Regions from separate parts of the Homo sapiens genome. Here all the other regions are reported to be linked to region 1. Evidence: microRNA targets listed by miRTarBase, many of them from high-throughput screens and not tested one by one. Region 1 holds a microRNA gene; each other region holds the end of a gene's coding sequence.
What was found. The annotated mature microRNA hsa-miR-548ab reads AAAAGUAAUUGUGGAUUUUGCU and lies in region 1 at 5,906-5,927, opposite strand. An mRNA with a match to its seed (bases 2 to 7 or 8) in the 3' UTR can be bound and repressed. Matches are read on the target gene's strand: a 7mer-m8 pairs with bases 2 to 8, a 7mer-A1 pairs with bases 2 to 7 and ends in A, and an 8mer does both.

Region 2: the mRNA of SMAD5 is a reported target of hsa-miR-548ab. Seed matches in the 3' UTR shown: 8mer at 1,990-1,997, 8mer at 2,453-2,460, 7mer-m8 at 2,728-2,734 and 8mer at 6,943-6,950.
Region 3: the mRNA of HMGN2 is a reported target of hsa-miR-548ab. Seed matches in the 3' UTR shown: 7mer-m8 at 6,149-6,155.

The regions. Positions count from the first base shown.
Region 1 is chr3:103,518,180-103,526,527 of GRCh38, forward strand. It overlaps MIR548AB (microRNA 548ab), which reads right to left and starts at 5,937; the gene lies at 5,854-5,937.
Region 2 is chr5:136,175,767-136,184,114 of GRCh38, forward strand. It overlaps SMAD5 (SMAD family member 5), which reads left to right. Exons shown (of 8, transcript NM_005903.7): 8 at 1,571-6,967. The coding sequence ends at 1,714. Among named protein-coding and RNA genes, the nearest start is that of SMIM32, 13 kb to the right of the region's middle.
Region 3 is chr1:26,473,050-26,481,397 of GRCh38, reverse strand. It overlaps HMGN2 (high mobility group nucleosomal binding domain 2), which reads right to left. Exons shown (of 6, transcript NM_005517.4): 2 at 7,871-7,915; 3 at 7,666-7,695; 4 at 7,263-7,313; 5 at 6,731-6,826; 6 at 4,756-6,285. The coding sequence ends at 6,250. Among named protein-coding and RNA genes, the nearest start is that of HMGN2, 4.8 kb to the right of the region's middle. RefSeq lists silencers at 2,254-2,454, 8,234-8,348.

The DNA.
Region 1 (8,348 bases):
ATCAAAAAATAAAATAGTTTCCAGATAAGCAATAGCTTAGATAATTTGTCACCACTAGACCAGATCCTTCAGGGAGTTTTAAATATAGAAATCCAATAATTAAACCTGTTACCACAGAAACACATTTAAGCACATAGCCCACAGACCCTATAAAGCAAATACACAACAGAAACTACAATGCAACCTGCTAACAACTTTATAATGGGATCAAAACCTCATATATCAATATTAATCTCAAATGTAAGTGATCTAAATGCCCCATTTAAAAGTCTCACAGTGGCAAGTTGTATAATACAAAAAAGACCCATCCATCTGCTGTGTTCAAGAGACCCATCTCACATGTAATGACACCGATAGACACAAGGTAAATAATTGAAGAAAGATACATCATGCAAACAGAAAACAAAAAAAAGCAGCAACCACTATTATTATAACAAATAAAACAAACTTTGAACCAAAAAGAAATAGTAAAAAGGGGAAAAAAAGACATTTTACCTGATGATAAAAAGATCAATTCAACAAGAAGTCTTCACTAACCTAAATACATATGCACCAAACATCAAAGGACCCAGAGTCATTAAACAAGTACTTATAGACTTATAAAAAACTGTAGATAGCAACACAATAATAATAGGGGACTTCAACACCCCACTGACAGCATTAGACAAATCTTTGAGGCAGAAAACTTAAAAAGAAATTCTAGACTTCAATTGTAAACTTGCCCAGTGGAATCTAATAAACATCTACAGGATACTCCACCCATTTACCACAGAATATACATTCTTCTCATGTGCACACAGTACATACTCTAAGCTCAACTACATTCTTAGCCATAAAACAAGGCTTTATAAATTAAAAAAAAAAGGAAATCATACCAACCATACTCTCGAACCAATAGAAAATAGAAAGCAATTCCAAGAAGATCACTCAAAATGGTACAAGTTCATGCAAATTATACAACTTGCTCCTGCCTTACTTTTGGGTAAACAACAGAGTTAAGGCAGAAATTAAAAAATATTATTTAAAATAAATGAAAACAAAGACACAGCTGCCAAAATCTACGACATGTAGCAATAGCAGTGTTAAAAGAAAGTTTATAGCATTAAATGCCTGCATTGAAAAGTTAGAAAGATTTCATTTAATGAACTAAAATCACAACTACAGGAACTAGAAAAACAAGAACAAAATAACCCCAAAGCTAGTATAAAAAAAGAATTAATTAAAATCAGAGTAAAACTGAATGAAATTGAGACCCCAAACTCTTACAAAAGATCAATTTAAACAAAAGTTGCTTCTTTAAATAGACAAACAAGATCAATAAACGGCTAGCTAGGTTAACAAAGAAACAAAGAGAGTAGATACAAATAAGCACAATCAGAAATGACAAAGGTGACATTGCCACTGATCTCACAGAAATACAAAAGGTCCTCAGTGACTATAATGAACACCTCTAGGCACACAGACTAGAAAATCTAGAGGAAATGGATACATTGCTGGAAACGCACAAGCTCCCAAAATTGAATCAAGAAGAAATTGAAACTCTGAATAGATTCTGTAATTTAATCATTAATAAAAAACCTACCAATCAAGAAAAAACCCTAGACTAGATGACTGTACAACTGAATTCTACAAGGCATACAAAGAAAAGCTGGTACCAATTCTACTGAAGACATTCTGCTCCCCCACCCCCCAAAAAAAATAAATCAAGGAAGGACTCCTTTCTAAGTCATTCTATGAAGCCAGCATTACCCTGATGCCAAAAACCTGGCAAAGATACAACAATAAAAAAACTACAGGCCAATATCCTTGACATATATGAAAAAACCCTCAACAAAATACTAGCAAACCTAATCTGGCAGAATATTCAAGGTTAATTTATCATGATCAAGTAGACTTTATCCCTGAGATGCAAGTTTGCTTCAACATATACAAATCAATAAATGTGATTCACCCTATAAATAGAATTAAATCCAAAAATCCTATGATCATCTCAATGGAAGCAAAAGGGTTTTTGATAAACTCCAACATCTCTTATCTCTTTGACATCTTTTATCTCTTCATGATAAAAACTCTCAACAATCTAGGTATTGAAGGAATATACCTCAAAATAACAAGAGTCATTTATGACAAATCTGCAGCCAACATCTACTCAATAGGCAAAAGATGGAAGCATTCCTATTAAGAACAGGAACAAAATAAGGGATGTTTATTCTCACCACTCCTGTTCAACATAGTATTAGAAGTCTTAGCCAGAGCAATCAGACGAGAAAAAGAAAAAAAAAGGCATTCAAATAAATACAGAAGAAAAACTATCTCTTTTTGCAGAAGATATGCTTGCATACCTAAAAATACTGGGGACTCAACTAAAAGCCTTTTAGAACCCATAACAATTTCAGTAAAGTTTCAAGATTCAAATTTAATGTACAAAAATTTCTATACTCCAACAGGGTTGAAGCTGAGAGCCAAATCTAGAATGAAAACTTATTTACAATAGCCACAAACAATAAAATACTAAGGAATACATTTAGCAAAAAAGGTGAAAGATCTCTACAAGGAGAACTATAAAACACTGCTAAAAGAAATCAGAGATGACACAAATAAATGAGAAAACATTTTATACTCATGGAATGAAGACACAATATTATTAAAATTGCCAAAGTTCCTAAAGCAATTTATAGGTTCAGAACTGTTTCAAAGGCATGACATTACCCAATTCCAAACTACATTATAAGGCTATGGTAACTCTAACAGTATGGTAGTAGTACTAAAACAGACACACAAACCAATGGAACAGAATAGAGAACCCAGAAATAAAACTGCACACCTACCACCAACTGATTCTTGAAAAAAGTAAACAAAAAGTAACAACAGGGAAAGGACCACTTATTCAATAAACAGTGCTGGAAGAACTGGCTAGCCATATGCAGAAGAATGAAACTGAATCCCCCCCACCCCATTTTTACCATAGACAAAAATTAACTCATGATAGATTAGATATTTAAATATAAGACCTCAAACTACATAAATCCTAGAAGAAAACCTAGGAAATACCATTCTAGATAGCTTAGGCAAAGAATTTATTGCTAAGTCCTCAGAAGTAATTCCAACAGAAGTAAAAGTTGGCAAGTAAGACCTAATTAAACGAAAGAGGTTTTGCACAGAAAAAGAAATTGTTAACAGTGTAAACTGACAACATATAGAATGGGAGAAAATATTCACAAACTATGTATCTGACAAATGTCTAATATCCAGAATCAATAAAGAACTTAAACACATCAGCAAGCAAAACCCAAACAAACAATAACAACAAAACATTTTAAAACGGGCAAAGGACATGAACAGGCACTTCTCAAAAAAGACATACAAGTGACTAACACACATATGAAAAAAAAAAGTTCGCCATAAGAGAAATGTCAATCAAAACCACAATGAGATATCATCTCATACCAGTCAGAATGGCTATTGCTAAAAAGTAAAAAAAAGTAATAATAACAGATGTTGGAGAGGCTGTGGAAAAAAATGACATGCTTACACACTGTTCGTGGTGATGTAAATTAATTCAACCACTGTGGAAAACAGTTTGGAGATTTCTCAAAAATCTTAAAGCAGAACTACTATTTTACATGACAATTTCATTACTGGGTATAAACCCAAAGGAAAATAAATCGTTCTGCCTAAAAGGCATGTTATGACATGTATATGTTCATTGCAGCACTACTCACAATAGCAAAGACATTGAATCAACCTAGGCACCCATGAAAGGTTGACTGGAAAAAGAAAATATGACACATGTACACATGGAATACTACCTAGCCATAAACAAGAATGAAATCATGTCCTTCACACCAATATAGATGCAGTTGCAGGCTAGAATCCTAGGCAATTAACACAGGAACAGAAAACCAAATACTGCATTTCTCACTTATACATGGGAACCAAACACTCAGTACACATGGACATAAAGATGGAAGCAATGGACAATGGGGACTAGTGGAATAAGGAAAGAAAAATGGGGTGAGGCCTGAAAGGACTGCCTATTGGGTGTGCTCACTGGGTGTCAGTGTCATTTGTACATCAAACCTAAGCATCACACAGTGTCCTAATGTGACAGGCCTTCACATATACCCCCTGAATCTAAAATAAAAGTTGAAATTATTTTTTTAAAAAAGAAAATGTGGTATGTATACACACAAGGGACTACTATTCAGCCATGAAAAGGATGAAATGTCATTTGACACAACTTGGATGAACCTGCAGGATATTATGTTAAGTGAAATAAGCTAGGCACAGAAAGACAAACACCTCATTATCTCACCCGTATTTGGAATAAAAAATCTTCATCTCATTGAAGTTGAGAGTAGAACAGTGGTTTCTAGAGCTGAGGAGAGTGGGGTAAGGGGAGATTAGAGGAGGTTGGTCAATAGGTACAATGTTACAGTGAGATAGAAGGAATAATTTCTGGTACTCTTGCATAGTATGGTGACAATAACAATAATGCATAGTGTATTTCAAATAAGTAGAAGAGAGAATTCTGAATATTCTTACAATAAAAAGATAAATATCTATGGTGATGTGTGTGCTAATTATCATGATTTAATGATTATGTGTATATACATATTGAAACATTACATGTATACCATATAAATATGTATAATTATTATGTGACAATAAAATATATTTTCAGATAGTATCATTTCATATATTCAGGGTTAAAATATATTACTAAAATTAATTTTATTTGTTTTCTCTTACTTTTTTAAGTAACTTTTTAAAATTACATGTGTGGCTCTATTTTGGGACTCACATTGTATTTCTGTTGGATGGTAGTTCTCTACAAAACAAAAACAAATAAAAATTGTCATGAACTTCATTACCCCTTGACAGGATAGCAATGTCAGGTAGAAAGCATGGGATGAGGATAGTGCCGTCAGGTAGAAAGCATAGGATGAGGATAGCGCCGTCAGATAGAAAGCATGGGATGAGGATAGCACCGTCAGGTAGAAAGCATGGGATGAGGATAGCGCCCTCAGATAGAAAGCATGGGATGAGGATAGCACCGTCAGGTAGAAAGCATTGCTTCCAAGATGTCTTAGTGATGCAGAGAGCTAATGAGCACAGGGTCCTGGCAAAGCAACCCTGGCTTATCTAACCGTTTCCATTCTTCATATGGGGGTTAAATACTCAGGACAGGAAACAACAGAATTTTACACATTTTATCTTAATTTCTAATGCTGTGTGAGTGTAGAATTCCTTGTATAAGTATGAGAAAACAGAATGTAATTATCAGATATATGAAAACATACAGCAATTCATAAGAAGACACCATGGGAAGAACCAAATCAAATGTCCAAATGTCTTTTTATTAAATAAAATCTCTTCATTCACAAACAAGAAGATCCAATAGAACATTGTATCTATATAGCTAGAAAATGCAGACAAAGAGAAAAAAATGGACCAGGACAGAATGTGTGAAGACAAAAATATTTAAAACTAATATATCAAATATAGTGAAAGCAGAGGTGAATTTTCCAAAGAAATAATAAAGCTTAAGCTTTGGGGGCACCTCCCTAGCCAAGGCTTCTTCTGAGACTCTGGAAGATGTCTTGCAAGTTTGTATTAATGTCTTAATATTTGTTTAAAAAAAAAAGAGAGTCCTCAGTTGTGTAAACATGAGGCTCTGCAATGCCTGTATCAGACCCTGGCACAGTGAAAGGCTAATTGTAATCTGCAATCATATATCTACCTCTACCCACAGATAGTCACTGAACACCTGATTTATATCAGGTAATCTGAGGAAGAGGTGGTGAGCCAATACACTGCTGACCTAGCCCCAATGGAACATGCTTTCTATTAGGTTGGTGCAAAACTAATTGCGGGTTTTGCATTACAAATAAATACAAGTAATAGCAAAATCCACAATTACTTTTGCACCAACATAATGGATGGAAAAAACAGATTATAGACATGTTATTGTAAATAAATAAATAAATAAATAGAGATCTACAGCAAACAAAACTAGTATAAAGAATTCACCCACCCAATATATCGGCTCATTCCATTTCTAATTGCCCAGTATTTAGAATATCCAATTGGGCTTCCAAGATATAATACACAAATAAGTTAATTGATTCAATTTCTCACAGTAGACTATGTGTTAATTTGAGAAATGAACACCATGAGTGATTCTCATAGTTTATGTATGTAAATACAAGTAAACATGAGTGCACAAATACACACAAGTATACACATATATGCACACATAAAGCTTCAATTTTATTATGGGGTTTTGGATATTTCATTTATCTTCTTTGAACTTAACCATGTTTTCAATAATTTGGGTACTAAATTGGTATTATACTTTAATCAAAAGAAATATTATTAAAACCCTAAATTTTCTTCATAAAAAGTATTTTTCCTCTCAAAATGTCCTACTAGAGGAGTAGTGTGAATTTGTAAACATTGCTTGGAGTTGTATAGGTATGCAGGCAGAATTTCATAGACCATATCACAGTTACAAGCTTGCCATGATTCCACAGCCATCTTCACATGCACTATCAATTTGCCTGGCCAGTTGGAAATAATAGATATGGAAGAGAAAGAAGGGTGGTGCTCCTCCTTTTCTGCTTCTCTAATTGACTGTGAAAAATGGATTCCTGCAACAATGTTGATCAAATTTACTCTATTTGATATTATTTACCTGAAGAAGGGGACTTCTTTCAAAAACAAAGGGGAAAATCTAATGCAAAGGTAAATATATCAGCACATATATTAAATATTTTTATTTTATTTACCAAATGGAATAAAAGGAAAAAAGAGGTAGGCTAATGGCACACCGAAGAATAATTGAAAACATGTTTAATCATTTGTTTGTCCACAAAGCAAAGGACAAATGCAAATTTGATTACAAAGAGTGGTGGAAAAGGTAAACAACAGTTTGGAAATTATTTCTAGTTATTCTTCAGAATCAATGAATAAAGAAAAGAAGTATGAAAGTAATAATGAATTAAAATGTGTGTTTCCTTGTTAAAGTGAAATGATTTTGGGGTGCTGAAAGTGAACCCCATATTTCTCCCCACTTTCAGATAATTGCCTGATTTATGGCTACTGATACAATCATTGCCATATCCAGGTTTTAGAGTCAAATAGTTTATGACTCGGTACTGTGTGCTGCCAGGCTAATCTTTCCTGTTGGCAAATCTCCACATGGTTTGACTGAGGGTCACCAGGTAGCTTTCCATGCTCAAAATTTGCCTGCTTTGTAGGTGTCAAATAACCAGACATTCTATTAGGGGGAATTCTTTCCTATGGAATAAAGTATTAAATGCTAATATGAGGAAGTAGAAAAATATAAAAGCACCATCCACATTTAATACATGATTAAAACATACTGAATACTTTCCAAGTGGTTGATAACCAAGAGCAAGAACTCACTTGGAATCGGGGTTACAGCAGATAAGTTTTGATAGGCAACATGTGGAGAGACCAAGAAGTGCCTCAATGTGATGGCAAAGTTGAGATGGAAGAAACATGTCAGGGATAGGATGGGGACCTAACTGTATAAATGAGGATAATGAAAAGGGAAAGAGGTTTTATATATGGAAAATAAACTATCTATAGCTAGCAGTAGTAACTGAGATTGCTTAGTCTAATAAAAGGTGACTGGAAGTAGGTGATTGGTAGAGGTTAAAAAATAAAAGGCAGTCTGGTAGAAAATGGAGTCAACTATTTGAGAGTCCTACAAGAAAAATTCAAAATGAATATGAACAGACTATATTGAGGCAAGTAAATATCAGACTAAAACATTCAGTTAGCTTACCAGTGGCTTCTTTTTCTATCACATATATTTCCCCTTTTCCTCTAGACTTCTATATACACATAGCTGATCTCTCTGTGGGTAGAGGGAGACTTATTCTGACCCTCTTTAATTTCTCTCTGATTCAATGATGGCAATGAAAAATGAAACTTAATATCATCTTTAGAGGAGAAAATACCGAATGATATCAATTTTTATATGTCTCTTGTTAGGTCCTAGAGAAGCAGATGCTGAGACTGAGTTTTTAATGCAAAACGTTGGTAAGGGATCAACATCAGTAAGCAGAAGGGACGAAAGCAGGTTGAGTAGAGGGAGGAGTGAAAGTGCATCAAAGGCCAAACAAATAATCAGAGAACTTGGTGAGGAGCTCTGGAGCAAGGATTGTCTAAAACACTGTCGCACTACAGGCTGAAATAGATGAGATCTTTTTACCAGGGGTCACCAGAATACGGTCAGCCTGCCACATGTTTTTTATAGTCTGTGAGCTAAGACTATTTTTTTTTACATTTTTAAATAGTTAAAAAAGGCAAAAGGA
Region 2 (8,348 bases), not on the chromosome of region 1:
TACATCAGTTTACTGGTTACCCTGAAGGTATTTCTGCCTTCTTGTACAGTAATGTGACTTTTGCATATTTATTTTAATCTCCACTCCCCAATGTTCTTCACTCCCCTGACCGCCCTCCCTCCCCAACCCAGTTTTCCTGGGCCAAGACTACCATAAGCAGTAAACCAGAGAACCTGATAAATCCAGGAAAATAAAAGTGAAAAATTTCTATTTCAATTTTTATCTGCAGTTTTAGGCTAAAGATTTCAGCTCAGTTCATCCCAGTAATTTCCAACCTTAAAGGATAATCACTATGTGACTGCCACATTAAATTATACATGCATGTATTGATCAATATCTACAATGCCTTATCTGATATTCAAACAACTTGAAAATAAAAAATTTTTCGTTAAAAAAAAAAACCTGGGCCGGGTGAGGTGGCTCACACCTGTAATCCCAGCACTTTGGGAGGCCAAGGCAGGTGGATCACCTGAGATCAGGAGTTCGAGACCAGCCTAGCCAACATGGTGAAACCCTGTCTCTACTAAAAAATACAAAAATTAGCCGGGCATGGTGGTGGGTGCCTGTAATCCCAGCTACTAGGGAGGCTGAGACAGGAGAATTGTTTGAACCTGGGAGGCGGAGGTTGCAGTTAGCCAAGATTGCGCCATTGCATTCCAGCCTGGGCAACAAGAGAGAAACTCTGTCTCACAAAAAAAAAAAAAAAAAAAAAAAAAAGAAACTCTGACATGTGACATGATCTTACATGAGGCTATTTATGATTTTGATTTTGATTTTTTATATATGATTCCTTTATTAGTATTTAAGTGACATCTCTTTACATTTTTTAGTGGTTTCTCCAGGAATTACCACGTTATCTTTAACATACCCCAATCTACCTAGAGTTAATATTGTACTATTTTTAGAATGTAAAATATGAAAACCTTGCTGTTGAAGAGTTTTAATTACCTTCTTTTATTCTTTGTGCTATTCATAAATTTTACATCTGCACATTATATCTTATAATACAGTTAAAATTTTTCCTTTAAATAGTCATTAAGTCTTACAAAGAAATTAAGAGAAAATGGTATTTATAAATATTTGCAGGCAGATTCTTTGGGGCTATGTAAATACACTGTTTCTCCTTTATATTTTACCCACAATTTTTGCATTCTTCAATATATCTTGTCTACAGTAATTATTACTGTGGTGTTCTAGTGGTGATTTTCTATTTTGCATTTATCCCATTAAGGGAGAATGTATCTCAGATCAGAAATATTTGTTTTAATTATGAGATACTGTACTGTGTTACCTTTCTAAGATTAAAAAAAATTATGAACTATAACTGGCTCTAAGGGTTTCTTTTAAGGGAATTATATATTATTTTAGAATTCATGAATCTTTAAATAATGTAGCTGTTGTCTTTTAATTTCATGGTGAATACTAAGACTGGTTTTGTGATAGTTATTCTCTTTATGTAACTTCTACATATCTCTACTGTTAAAAGCTATCTTTTTCTTATGGTAAAATTGGTTTAGAGTGGTTGACAGTTTAAAGAGGGATTTGTGATGATATCTGTTCATTTTCATAGGGTTGGGGAGCAGAATATCACCGGCAGGATGTAACCAGCACCCCATGTTGGATTGAGATTCATCTTCATGGGCCTCTTCAGTGGCTGGATAAAGTCCTTACTCAGATGGGCTCCCCTCTGAACCCCATATCTTCTGTTTCATAATGCAGAAGTATTCTTTTCAATTATATTGTTAGTGGACTTGTTTTAATTTTAGAGAAACTTTGAGTACAGATACTGTGAGCTTACATTGAAAACAGATATTACAGCTTATTTTTTTCTACATAATTGTGACCAATACATTTGTATTTTGTGATGAATCTACATTTGTTTGTATTCATGTTCATGTGATTAACTCTTAGAAGTGTTGTAAAAGATGCAGAGTAAGTATTATGCCCCAGTTCAGAAATTTGGCATTGATCTTAAACTGGAACATGCTTTTACTTTATTGCCCTAACAATTTTTTATTAAATTTATTTGAAAATGCATCACATGATGAAAAATTATAGTAGCTTATAAGAGGGCATATACAGTGAAGAGTAAGTTTTCCCTCCTACTCTCGATCTTCCAGAAGCTGTACTTTTACCAGTTTCTTTGTCCCACCAACTTAAAAAAAAAAAGTACAATTCATTGTTTTGCAAAAGTGTATGGTAGGGGCTTAAAAGAAACTATAAAGTTTTATTTGAATGAACACTATGCACTGCTGTAACTGGTAGTGTTCAGTAAAAGCAAAATGATAGTTTTCTAGATGACATAAAATTTACATTTAATACAGATAAGTGTTCTTCAGTGTAATGTGACTTCATGCTATATATCTTTTGTAAGACATTTCCTTTTTTAAAAAAATTTTTGCAAATAACTGATCTCAAGTATATGTCATTTACTCAAAATCTGTCATAAGCATTACTTTATAGCTAGTGACAGTGCATGCACAGCCTTGTTCAACTATGTTTGCTGCTTTTGGACAATGTTGCAAGAACTCTATTTTTGACATGCATTAATCTTTTATTTTGCACTTTTATGGGTGACAGTTTTTAGCATAACCTTTGATAAAATACACTCAAGTGACTTGGACTTAGATGCTTATCCTTACGTCCTTGGTACCTTTTTTGTATTAACAAACACTGCAATTTATAGATTACATTTGTAGGAAGTTATGCTTTTTTCTGGTTTTTGTTTTACTTTCAACCTAGGTTATAAGACTGTTATTCTATAGCTCCAACTTAAGGTGCCTTTTTAATTCCCTACAGTTTTATGGGTGTTATCAGTGCTGGAGAATCATGTAGTTAATCCCATTGCTCTTACAAGTGTCAGCTTACTTGTATCAGCCTCCCTACGCAAGGACCTATGCACTGGAGCCGTAGGAGGCTCTTCAGTTGGGCCCCAAGGATAAGGCTACTGATTTGATACTAAATGAATCAGCAGTGGATGTAGGGATAGCTGATTTTAAAACACTCGGCTGGGCACAGTGGCTCACACCTGTAATCCCAGCACTTTGGGAGGCTGAGGCAGGCAGATCATGATGTCAGGAGTTTGAGACCAGCCTGGCCAATATGGTGAAACCCTGTCTCTACAAAAAATACAAAAATTAGCTGGGCATGGTGGTGCGTGCCTGAAGTCCCAGCTACTCGGGAAGCTGAGGCAGAAGAATCACTTGAACCTGGGAGGCGGAGGTTGTGGTGAGCCGAGATCGCACCACTGCACTCCAGCCTGGGCGACAGAGCGAGACTCTGCCTCAAAAAACAAAACAAAACAAAACACTCACCCATCAACGAATATAGACTCTTCTCTCATTTATCGATGATCCTCTTTTTCCATTTTTTAAGTACTTATGTGGAAGCTAGTCTCCCAAAACACAATCTTTAGAGAGAAAAGACATGAACGAACTCCAAAATATCCATTTAATCAATCATGTTTTTGGCTTTGGATAAAGAACTTTGAACCAGTTTTTTTCTCAGGAGCTGTCAAATGGACACTTAATTATGACATGAGAATGAAGAAATTATTTTGGAAAAAAAAAATGACCTAATTTACCTATCAGTGAAAGCTTTATTTTCTGGTGCCTTTTGAAAGTATATGGAGTCATATCATTCTTCTGTTTAAAATGTTAGTTTGGTTTGACTTTCCACTTTGTCCTTTCTGCTCTTGTGAAGAAAAAAAAAAGCATTTTCGAGGAAAGAATTATGCAATTTCTTTTGTTTTCTGTGTCATTATTTATTGCTTTTTCAATGTGCAGCCAGTGGATGGTTTTAGTTCTTTCAGATGAACTGCCATTTGTGTTTCAGCTCACAGTTCTTTGCTGGGTAAAAGAAATACTTTCTGACAGTCACCTGAGCCTTAAATGTAAGTATTACATGACATGCATTCTGTTTCTTCCAGAGTTCTGTCTGCCACACGAAAGAGAATATTTGCTTACTTGATAGAACTTTGGCATTTTCATCATTCTTTTACTTAACCAGGCTTATGGCATGATCTCTGGAACAAATTTGTAGGAAAAAATTACTCCAATTGAATGACTGATGTATGTAATCAACTTCATTGGGCTGCAGTAAACTAGTGGAAATTAGAGAGTTGTTTTATTGGTGTTTTCTACTGTGAGTTAATTAAAAATTGTTTTTATTTGGGGTCATTATGTCACAGTCTTGAGTTAACAAGATCTTACGTGATTGGCCTTTTCTTTGTTTTCTCTTAGGAGTTGTGTCTCATGAATGACAGTACTAAAGCTATTAACAACTAAGAGTTTGACAGAGAACTATAAGCCTGTTGTATCTCCTAAAAGTTGTCAACTCCCCACCCTTGGACTTTAAATGAAAATTTTATTCAGTCCAGCTATTCTTACAGTCCCTAAGGATTTTCATATATCTATGTATAGGAGATAAAATTTGCTAGTAAGATTTTTAAAAACTGGCTAGTGAAAGGAAAGTACCTCTGAAAGAAACCATTTTAGCAAATTATGGTTATATGTTTTAATTTAATCTACAGAATGTTTTATAGTAAAATTCTAGCACCACTAGAATAATCACATAGCATGTACAATATATTTATGCTGGCTGAAAAGACAGAATCTGGGAATAATAAAATTGCAACCAGTTTGGTAATGCAAACAGCAGAATAGAATGAAATCTCAGTAATGAATTAAAGCAACAAAAAGATATTGATTGGCAAAAAGCAAGATATAAGAGATTCATTTGCTTAACATTTCTACATAATATTTATGGTCTGGTCAGTATTGGTCTGGTCAGTATTGCCTGGCTGACGTGAAATGTAAACTAGTAGGCGTGTTATTGATCTGCTAAAACTAACCCTCTTTTTAAGAGGAGATTTAAGGAAGACGTCAATCAAAATGTCAAATATGTGTGTCAGAATATAAATAATTTTTCACATTGTATTGTTGCTATATAAAAAAAATAATAGAATTGGTTGGGTTTCTGAGGTGAAATCCAGAGTAAGAGTACTAGACAGTTCAACAAGCCACATCTAATGGCACAGATAGAGGATGTAGCTATTTTATACCTTTCATAACATTTGAGAGTAAGATATCCTTCAGGATGTGAAGTGATTATTAAGTACTCATACCTGAAATCTGTTGTCAAGATTAGAACTGGGGTTCATGTTAAAAACCTTCCATATTACCTGAGGGTACCTGTGGGGAACAGTTCCTTCCCCTGTGTGGTAGTATTTTGTTGGAAGAGAATGTTTATACAAAAAATGAAATTCTTCCAACAGCAGAGAAACTCTAAAAAGTTTGATAGTACCTATCAAAGTGCTGTACTTCTGTGATAGAGAACATCTGATGTACCAATTTAGATCTATTTCTTTATACTTTTTCTAATCAATTGCTTAATAGTACTTTGGATGATTATCACCTTTGCCACTTAAAATATATAAATATCCTTTTTACTTCATGAGGAAGGAAGAATTTTTTGATAATTACTGAGTTCAGCCTTTTGTGATGACTTATATTTTGGACTTACATTTTAACTTTAAAGAATGTCAGATCCCTTCTTTGTCTTACTAGTTAAATCCTCACCTAATCTCTTGGGTATGAATATAAATGTGTGTCATCGTTATATTGTTCAGCTAGATGAGCAAGTATCTTAGGGTAGTAGGTAGCCTGGTGGTTTTAGAAGTGTTTGGTGATTTTTATGGAGAGAGTTTTCCTAAGTGGTGGTTTATAGGTGGTATCAGATATTATTAGGGCAGCTTTTTGGGGAGTAATCTCAGGTCTCCCAGAGCAGCAGCATTTTTCTCATTGATATAAGTAAGATTCTTAGGAGCTTTTCTTATCACACAAGATGCCTGAATCGAATGTGAGAATTGAAGGCATTTCTTCTGCATAAACAAAGAATTCTACCTGCTGGACAGAAACCTGGAAAGTTCTTTGGAATTCGCTGAATTACAGTTTAGTATGTCCTGATTACAGAGTGACAATATTTATCAAGCCTTTGTTATATTGGATTATCTTCTCTCTTAAAATACAACTGTATTATAATTGAAATGACAGCCCAAAATTGGATGGTTTACCAAAACCAATGAAAGGGATTTCACACATCAATTTTTATTTCTGTTTTGAAGAGCACATGCTATATAATAATTGCTAGTAGCAACTGCAGTAAAACAGGTGATAAGTTATTTTCTCTGAAAAGATCCAGTCCTAGAGCAGGATTCTTCGATCATTCATGGCAGAGTGAAAAAGGTTTGTATGGTTCTTGTCCAAATAACTCAGTTCTTAAAATTCTTAAAATGATCGTAAACCATTATCCTTTAAAGGTTTATTTGAAGATGCTGTTAAAGTACAGAATTTTGTGTACAGGTAGATTTTTCCGTCCCTCATTAATAGTGCCTTCTTAATTAATACAGACTGGTGTTAGCTATAACAAAACTCCAGTAAGGCCAAAGAATCCCAAGTTCTTTGTGGAAAAAAAAAAAAAATCTTTTAGGGTCAGATTTTCCCTTCTAATATCATTGAAGATGATGTTGCATTGATTTATTCATAAAGTATTTTAACTATAGGAACTCTAGAAGATAATGGTTAGGCAAGTGATTTTTTTTTTAAATATGGTTGGCGTAAGTTGTATTTTGAAATTCACTTATTTTAAAATCGAAGAGGATTGTAATCATGGAAATAGAATGTTTGTATCTACCTGCCCACATTTTCTTAAAAAGATATTTCATATACAGATAATGAAGACCAAGCTAGTGGCTGCACTGTAGGTCTGCTGCTTATTTGTATTTGTTGTGCTTCTGTTTATGTTGTAGAAGCTGAAATTCTAGCAACATGCTTCAATTCTGTTATTTTGATACTTATGAAAATGTATTAGGTTTTACTATATTGTGCTTTTGAAAGCCATAACTCTTAAGAACTTTGTTTTTGCATATTGTTTGCTAATTCTTTACTTTAATAAACCTCAAAACCTGCTTAATGTGTCTTTTTTTGTTTTGGCTCTGGAGTTGGCCTGCCTGCGTTTGAGTCATGGGCCTCATAGCTTAGACAAGTTGCTTAACCACTCTATGCCTCACTTTCCTGACCTGTAAAGGAAAAGTCTACTTCATAGGAAGGATTTGAGGGAAGATTAATTGAAGTGTAATACAAATACAGTATTTAGAACAGTACTTAGAACATAAGAACTCAAATATTAAAATTGTTACTATCTTTTACATTTCCACTAGTTCTTTGATTCAGAATAATTACTTCTTATGTTGCTTGACCTCGGTGTATCAACCTTTGATGATCCACTTTGTGAATTTACAATTTTTTATTTCCTTTTGTCTTCTTTTTTGAAAAAATTTTAAATCACAGACTGACTTTGCATCATTGTCACTGTGTTGCACACTTTTACCAACCTCTGAATTACATATACAAGACATGCAAACTCATTCTAATTAGAAAGGAATGGTGAGCGAGGCACAGTGGCTCAGGCCTGTAATCCCAGCTTTTTGGGAGGCTGAGGCAGGTGGATCACCTAAGGTCAGGAATTCAAGAGAAGCCTGGCCAACATGGTGAAACCCCGTCTCTACTAAAAATCCAAAAATTAGCCGGGTGTGGTGGCGCGTGCCTGTAATCCCAGCTACTTGGGAGGCTGAAGACAGGAGAATCGCTCGAACCCAGGAGGTGGAGGTTGCACTGAGCCAAGATCATGCCATTGTACTGCAGCCTGGGCAACAAGCGATACTGCGTCTCAAAAAAAAAAAAAAAAAAAAAAAAGGAATGGTGAAAAATCATGTGCCCTTGCCAGAAATGTAGAAAAACCCAAACTACATATTAACCCTAAAGGATAAAGATAAAAGCACTTGTTCTTTTTTTTTTTTTTTTTTTTTTTAATAGATAAAAAAGACTCTATTCAAGCTTGTCCAGCCTGCACACATGGGCTGCATGTGGTCCAGGACAGCTTTGAATACGGCCCAACACAAATTGGTAAATTTTCTTAAAGCATTATGAGATTGTTTTGCGAGTTTTTTTTCTTTTTTTTAGCTCATCAGCTATCGTTAGTGTTAGTGTGTTTTATGTGTGGCCCAAGATAATTATACTTCACTGTGGCCTAGGGAAGCCAAAAGATTGGACATTCCTACCAATTTCTGAGAATCAGTTCCTTCCTATGTCTTTTTACTTAAAAGGCATTTTGTAAGGTATTTTGTAGCAACATCACTGGTTGTTTTAGAAGTGTATTTTTTAAAAAAGCACACTTGTCCTAGCGGAAGAAGGTTCAGTGAGCACTAAGAGGATGTTGGCTTCTCTTGGGTTTAAGATAATTAGTTTTCAGGTTGCTGTAGCCAAAACAGTTCAGGTGATGAGGGGTTG
Region 3 (8,348 bases), not on the chromosome of region 1:
ACACAGTTAGATCCTGTCTCAAAAATCAAAAACCAAAAACTACACACACACACACATATATATACATAAAGAACTCTGAGGCCAGGGGCAGGGGCTCACGCCTGTAATCACAGTACTTTGGGAGGCTGAGGTGGGCGGATCATCTGAGGTCAGAAGTTCAAGATCAGCCTGGCCAACATTGCAAAACCCTGTCTCTACTAAAAATACAAAAATTAGCCAGGCGTGGTTGTGCATTGCCTGTAATCCCAGCTACTTGGGAGGCTGAGGCATAAGAATCTCTTGAGCCTGAGAGGCAGAGGTTGCAGTGAGCCGAGATTGCACCATTGCACTCTAGCTTGGGGGACACAGCGAGACCGTCTGAAAATAAAAGAAAAGAAAGAATAGAAAAGGTGGCTCATGCCTGTAATCCCAGCATTTTGGAAGGCCGAGGCAGGCGGATCACCTGAGGTCAGGAGTTCGAGACCAGCCTGGCCAATATGGTGAATCCCCGTCTCTACTAAAAATAGAAAAAAATTAGCCGGGCACAGTTGTGGTCATCTGTAATCCCGGCTACTCTGGAGGCTGAGACAGGGAGAACTGCTTGAACCCAGGAGGCAGAGGATGCAGTGAGCTGAGATCATGCCACTGCACTCCAGCCTGGGTGACAGAGCAAGACTCACTCTAAAAAAAAAAAAAAAAAGAAAGAAAAGTAAGAGAAAAGAACTCTTACACTTCAACAATAAAAACAACCCACAAAGAATACTTTCCTGAGAAGCATGTTAAACACACACACACACTCCCTAATTATAACTTGGCAAAGGATGTGAATAGACACTTCTTTAAAAAAAGATGCACAGGCTGGGCACAGTGGCTCACACCTGTAATCCCAGCACTTTGGGATACTGAGGTGGGCAGATCACCTGAGGTCAGGAGTTCAAGACCAGCCTGGTGGCCAACATGGTGAAACCCCTCTCTATAAAAATACAAAAATTAGCTGGGCATGATGTTGGGTGCGTGTAATCCCAGCTACTCAGGAGGCTGAGGCAGGAGAATCACTTGAACCCGGGAGGCGGAGGTTGCAGTGAGCTGAGATCGCGCCATTGCACTCCAGCCTGGGCGAGAGAGCAAGACTGTCTCAAAAAAAAAAAAAAAAAAAAAAAAAGCCAGTACGGTGGCTCCCACTCATGCCTGTAATCCTAGCACTTTGGGAGGCCAAGGCAGGCGGATCACAACGACAAGGTCAGGAGTTCCAGACCAGCCTGGCCAATATGGTGAAACCCTGTCTCTACTAAAAATACAAAAATTAGCCAGGTGTGGTGGCGGGCACCTGTAGTCCCAGCTACTCGGGAGGCTGAGGCAGGAGAATCACTTGAATCCAGGAGGCAGAGGTTGCAGTGACCAGAGATTGCACCACTGCACTCCAGCCTGGGAGACAGAGCAAGACTCTGTCTCAAAAAATAAAAAATAATAAATAAATAAATGAGGCCAGGCATGGTGGCTCACACTTGTAACCCCAGCACTTTGGGAGGCCAAGGTGGGCAGATCACCTGAGGTCAGGAATTTGAGGCCAGTCTGGCCAACATGATGAAACCCTGTCTCTACTAAAAATACAAACAATTAGCCGGGTGTGGTGGTGGGCACACGTAATCCCAGCTACTCGGGAGGCTGAGGCAGCAGAATCGCCCAGGAGGGGGAGGCTGCAGTGAGCTGAGATCACGCCACTGCACTCCAGCCTGGGTGACAAAAGCAATACTGTCTTAAAAAGAAAGAAAAGGCCGGGCAAGGTGGCTCACACCTGTAACCCCAGTACTTTGGGAGGCCAAGGCAGGTGATCACCTGAGGTCGGGAGTTCAAGACCAGCCTGACCAACATGGAGAAACCCCGTCTCTACTAAAAATACAAAAAATTAGCCATGCATGGTGGCACATGCCTGTAATCCCAGCTACTTGGGAGGCTGAGGCAGAATAATTGCTTGAACCTGGGAGGAGGAGGTTGCAGTGAGCCGAGATCATGTGACTGCACTCCAGCCTGGGCAACGAGAGCGAAGTTCCGTCTCAAAAAAAGAAAGAAAGAAAGAAAAAAGTACGAGTTACCATATGACCCAGCAATTTCATTCCTAGGTATGTGCCCAAATGAGCTAAAAACATATGCCTACAAAAACTTCTATATGATATTTGTAGCAGCATTATTCACAATAGTCCCAAAGTGGAAATCACCCAAATGTACATCAACTGATGAGTAAATAAAATGTGACTTATCCAATGTGATATATCCATACAATGGAATGTTATTTGGCAGTACAAGTTATCAAATACATATGATACGGATGAACCTTGAAAACATGCTAAGTGAAAGAAACCAGTCGTGAAAAAACACAGATTGATTCCATTTAGATGAAATATCCAGAAAAGGTCTAGAGAGACAGAAAGTAATTAGTGATTGTCTAGGGATGGGGGAGGAAGAAATGGGGAGTTAACTGCTAATGGGCATGGAGCTTTTTGGGGGTGATGAAAATATTCAGAGGCTGGGCAGGGTAGTTCATGCCTATAATCCCAGAACTTTGGGAGGCCAAGGTGGGCAGATCACTTGAGGTCAGGAGTTCAAGACTCTAGCCTGGGCAACATGGCAAAACCCTGTCTCTACCAAAAACACAAAAAATTAGCCAGGCATGGTGTGTGCCTGTAGTCCTAGCTATTTGGGAGGCTGAGGTGGGAGCTTGAGCCTGGGAGGTAGATGCTGCGGTGAGCAATAAGCTGAGATCATACCACTGCAATCCAGCCTGGGTGACACAGTGAGACACCCCCATCTCAAAAAAAAAAAAAATATATATATATATATATATATATATATATATATATATATACACATATATTTATATATATATACACATATATTTATATATATATACACATATATTTATATATATATATATACACACACACACACGTATATATTCCAGAATTAGATAGTGGCAATAGTTGCACAATGTTGTGAATGTACTAAAACCACTGTAGTATATGCTTTAAAATTGTGAATTTTGGCTGGGTGTGGTGGCCAGCACTTTGGTAGGCCAGGGTGGGAGGACTGCTTTGTGCCCAGGAGTTGAATACCAGGCTGGGCAACACAAGACTCCATCTCTTAAAATAATGATATAGTGGTGACTTTTTTTTTCCCCAAGAGCGTTAAGTATATTTATTTTTTAAATTTTATTATTATTATACTTTAAGTTTTAGGGTACATGTGCACAACGTGCAGGTTACATACGTATACATGTGCCATGTTGGTGTGCTGCACCCATTAACTCGTCATTTAGCATTACGTATATCTCCTAATGCTATCCCTCCCCCCAAAGTGGTGACTTTTAATGGTATATGATTATTTCTCAATTTAAAGAAGGGGAGGGGTAATTCTCAGCAGTGTTAACTGCTGCAATGAATCAGGCCAGGCCTGAAGAGACCGTGCAGCAGGCTGTCCACACAACAGCCATTTTCCTCTATCATCATCCCTCCTCTATTGAATTCCAACAATTCTGACTGGTCTAGGCAGATTCTGTGGTTTCATTCCTCTTGCTATGATTGGTTTAGGAGTGGAGAGGCAATCCAGATCTGCCCAGTGAAACACAGGCTGCTGGGGTGCTTGTAGGAAATATTTCATTCTTCTTAAATGCAGGGAAAAAAGGAGCAGTCCTCCAGCCTCTTGCCATTGGTATGGCAAATTACGATGTCTGGAGCAACTGCCTTGAAGGTGAGGTGGCTGGAGAACATGTTGAGGGCGGCAGAGCAGAAAGACAGGAAGCCCACCTGGGTCCTCACAACTGCCCGACCTCGGGACTTGTATCAGATGAATCCTCTAGTTTGTGCCATTTATGTTACTTTTTTTTTTTTTTTACTTAGAGCCCAAGCATCTGGTGACTTTTCCCGAGATCTTAAGAATGGGCCTGGAGACAGGGCTGGCACTGAGCATGCTACCATGGCTGTCTTAGTGAATGGTCCTTACCACGTTTTGATGTCTGGTTTGGTTTTAGGCCCAGCTACTTTCATGGTCCAGAGCCAGTCAAATCAGTATTTTCCAGGAAGGAAAAAAAGAAAAAAACTCGAAAAAGTTCAAGCTTACCCTACTCATCCTAATTATATGGCAACAAGAAGAGGGCCAGAAAATAAGTAAAAACAGACTATCAAGTTTAACCTCAGCCAGTCGCTTCACATCTGAGCCTCACTCTCGACTACAAAATGGGGCTACACCTGTATCTCATAGGTCTGACTCAAAGATTAAAGAGCATGAGGCAGAGCTGTTAGCATAGCCCAGGGCTTAGCAGACTTGCCACTAACAAAGAACCTCAGCTGTAACTTTCTCAAATTCTGCAACCTCTGCTCAAATACCAGCCCACTACCCCTGACCATTCTAAGATGTCTCTTAAGTTTCCTCTGGAAGAGGACACCGCTTTTAGAATAAAAATTACCCGTCTACAACCTAGAATGAATGACTTCAGCAATAATGAAAGTAAATGGCTGGTAACTGGCTAAATGGACAAATGGTATTTTATCCTGAATAAAAGTCTGTCAGAGATGACTTTTGTCTAGTTGAGGGTCTGAATCCTGACTCTGCTGCTCATTAAATGTACACATAACCTTCAACAAGTTTCATCTGTGCCTGATTCCTCATCCATGAGTGTGATACATATATTACACAAACATCTCAACACTTGAGAGATAATACACAAAAAACCTCAAGAACTTAACAGCGATACTTTTTTGACTAAGGGAATGGACAAAGCAATTAGTCTCCAATTTACTTTATTCCTGTCCAACAATACAGCCAGGTCTGTGAAAGCAAATTCAAGGTGCAAACATGAATTTGTTACCAGTTCCATATTCTAACAAATAACTTCTTGCCATTTCACTTAGAGAAACGTGGGGTTCTCTGCATCTCCAAACTAAAGGAATCAGGAAAGACCCCATTGTCTTTGTTTGCAGGTCTACTTAGGAGCAAAGTGTCATCTACCTTACAAATGGACAACTGTGTACACATTCACAGAGACACTCTCTGACATGAGTCTATTAATTTGCTAATTTTATAGAAGTTGCAAATGCAGATGGAAGTAGAGAGGCTCCTGTCAGCTACCCAGCCAAAACCGCAGATCTACCAAAAATCTGCATTTAATACACTTCATGTATTCGGAGTCATGCAAAAAACAAACACTGCAGGGAATGCTGCATAACCAAGTACAGAAATCACTCCATACTCCCAGCCTTTCACCATCAGCTAAGTCTACTCCTGGAATCCTTCCTAACTGCACCTAGCACTGTGTGTTTTGGAAGCTGACTATAAATCAGTGAAAGATCATCATTAGACTGTACATGGAGTACCTCAAAGCAGAACGTACCCTGTTCCAAGAGACTTGGATAAACCAGGTTACCCCACTTGTGGGAAAAGATCAGAGGCAGCATTCCAAGCCAAACTGTATCCAGCTTTATTAAAGATACTTTCCATAAACAATCATGGTATTTCAGGCAGGACATGGGCAGACAATCGTTAACAGTATACAACAACTTTCAAACTCCCTTCTTCAATGGACTACCAAAAATCAGAAAGCCACTATAAAACCCAATGAAGTCTTCATCTGATGCTCTGAACAGGGAAAGTTTAGAGTGAGGGTTGACATTTCACATTTAGCATGTTGTTTAACAACTTTTCACAAGCCGACCCTGACTTTCAGGAAGTGAAATGAAAATGGCAGAATTTATCTGAAGATCCACAATCTAGAAATGGAACCACTGCTCTTTTGACAGGTGCCATCTCAGTGGCATCACTGGAAAGTCCAGATTGCCTGACACACTGGTAACCAATGACTAGGGGTCAGGTCTCAACAGATGTCTGGGCTTAAGGGAGTTAAGTCTATGCTGAACGATGGAAAGGGAGAAGAGGACATAAAAACAAATTTGTTTTTCTATACCACAAGGCTTTTGTGCCAAGGTGGCCATGTGTGTCAAAGTCAGGGAATCCCTCCTCCTGGGAGCCAAGAGGAAGTCTCTCAAAACTAGAAGGGAAAGGTGTTTTCTCCACATCAATCCAGCTTTGGAGACATTCTATTAGTGACATATGCCCCTTCCCCCAAAAACAACAATGAAGTGTTCTGTGTGCTAACAACATAGCTTTTAAAAAAAAAAAAAAAGTAAAACAAAATTCTGCATTTTTATAAAACTTGATAAAAAATAGTATTTCAAACTGTACAGTCACCAGAAGTACACAGTTATCAAAAATGCACACACTTCACTTGGCATCTCCAGCACCTTCAGCTTTCTGTGCCTAAAAGAAAACAGACAAATTAATGCAATGCGTAGATTTCAAAACTATCTGTGTTCACATTCCACCTACAGCATCACTTTGCTCCCAGGCCAAAGTTCAGGTTTCAGGTACTGAGACTCAGTATTTCTTCTGAGAATGACTTACTAGGTAACTTTGCTAAGTCACCTCTCCTCTGGGCCTCACTGTAAAATTGAGGTAGGAAGAACACCAGAATAAGAGACCTGAGGTTACTCCTAGCTTGAAAACTTCATGTAGTATAAAACACAATGCCCTTCAGCTGACAGTAGAGATTTCAAGAATCCAGGATTTAAGTTAACAGGAAAGCCACAAGCACACTGGACCAAATGGTACATTTGGAGTGATACAAGAAAAGGGCAATTAAATTTTTGATATCAGCAACTAACTGAATGAACAAATCTAACAAAGGGTGAAACAGCAGTTATACCTGGTCTGTTTTGGCATCTCCATTTTCTGCAGGGTTATTCCCCTCCTTGCCAGCATCAGCTTTTCCCTTTTTCCCTTTGGGTACCTTCTCTCCCTTCTGAAAAAGGGGAAAAAATAGAACTGTTTCTCCCCATTTCGTATTACCAAGGTATGGTCTGCAAAGTTCTGCACAAGGTAGGATTGTTTACTCAAGATAAAACACAAACCCTCACCCATTTGACAAGAACAACTGATCAAAACTAGGCTAAATTATCTGTAATTTGCTATAATCTTTAGTACTTAGAATTTCCTAAGTAACAGAAGAATAAATTAGTTTAAACCCTGGGGTATTTAATATTTAAATGCAGATTTTCCTATAAACTAACAACAGAATTCTTGATCAGGAAACCAACGTTATGAATGACACGGACGAGGTAAGCTATCCACACAGTTTATAACCTCCATTAATGGAGGCACCATTATGCTAATTAAGTTAAGGCACTAAGGACAGTCCTCATTCTGTGAAAATGATCAGTTCCAATGTTAGCACTTACCTTTGCAGGGGCCTTTTTAGGCTTGGGCTCTGGCTTTGGAGGAGCAGGTTTCTTTTTTTGGCAGGAAGAGAGGAAAAAGTGAACATCAGTACAATGGACTGAAGAAAACCACCCACAACCAACCAAAAGTACCAAGGGTAGAGAAGTTTCTCCTCCTCCTCAAAAGTTTTTGTGGTTGGCTTTCTTCTAGAATGTTGGATTTCCAGAAGCCCACTCAAATGTCCCACTTTGGCTACAGGCATCAGAATTTCAGAACCAGCAAAACCCAAAGGGGCAAGAGTCCCAAGTAGAGGCAATGATTCAAAACCAGGCACTAACCATAATTCATGGAAGCAAAGGGAATTGTTTTTTGATGTTTTTTAGTTTCAGGGACAAGCACGAAAATTCAAAAGCATACACTTACAGCAGACAACCTCGCGGATCTTCTCTGTGGCTATTAAAGACAACGAGAAAGTTAGAAATAGGACAGGTAAGTCGCTTTGAAAGTTTGGTATCAATTTGCTCTAGATTATAGGAGTGTAAATTCAGGACACAGGTTACGGTTAATCACCGAGTCCAGTGGCCTCTGCTAGTCCAAGGCTTTGACCCTTGAAGAGAGAATGACTTACTTCGTCCTTCACCTTTGCTTTATCTCCCTTAGCATCCCCTTCAGCCTATAAGAAACAAGAACAAAAAACTGCAGATTTTGAGGTGGTTCTTAATTACTTCCCAAACTTTAGAGTGCTAAAAATGAAAATTAAAGCAGTCGTCCACACAACTTTTCTAGGACATAAATGAGTGAGCCCGACGTTCGTATAAGAACGAAGCGCGCGCAGGAGCTCCGGCTCGCCGACCCCGAGAAGCGAGGGCTGGACCGGAGCGCAGCCGGGGAGGGCAGCGGAGCCCGCACCACCGCGACAGGCAGGAGCAACAGCTGCAGATGGCGCAAACAAACCCCCTCCGGAGGCGGAGCCCAGCGCCGTTGCTATGGCAGCCGTCGAGGGCGGGAGAGGGAGGCGCGCGCAGCCCGGGGAACTCGTGGGCGGCGACAGCGCGCGTCTCGTGCGCGGGGAACGTGGGCGAGGGGGCGGGGCCATACCGCACAAG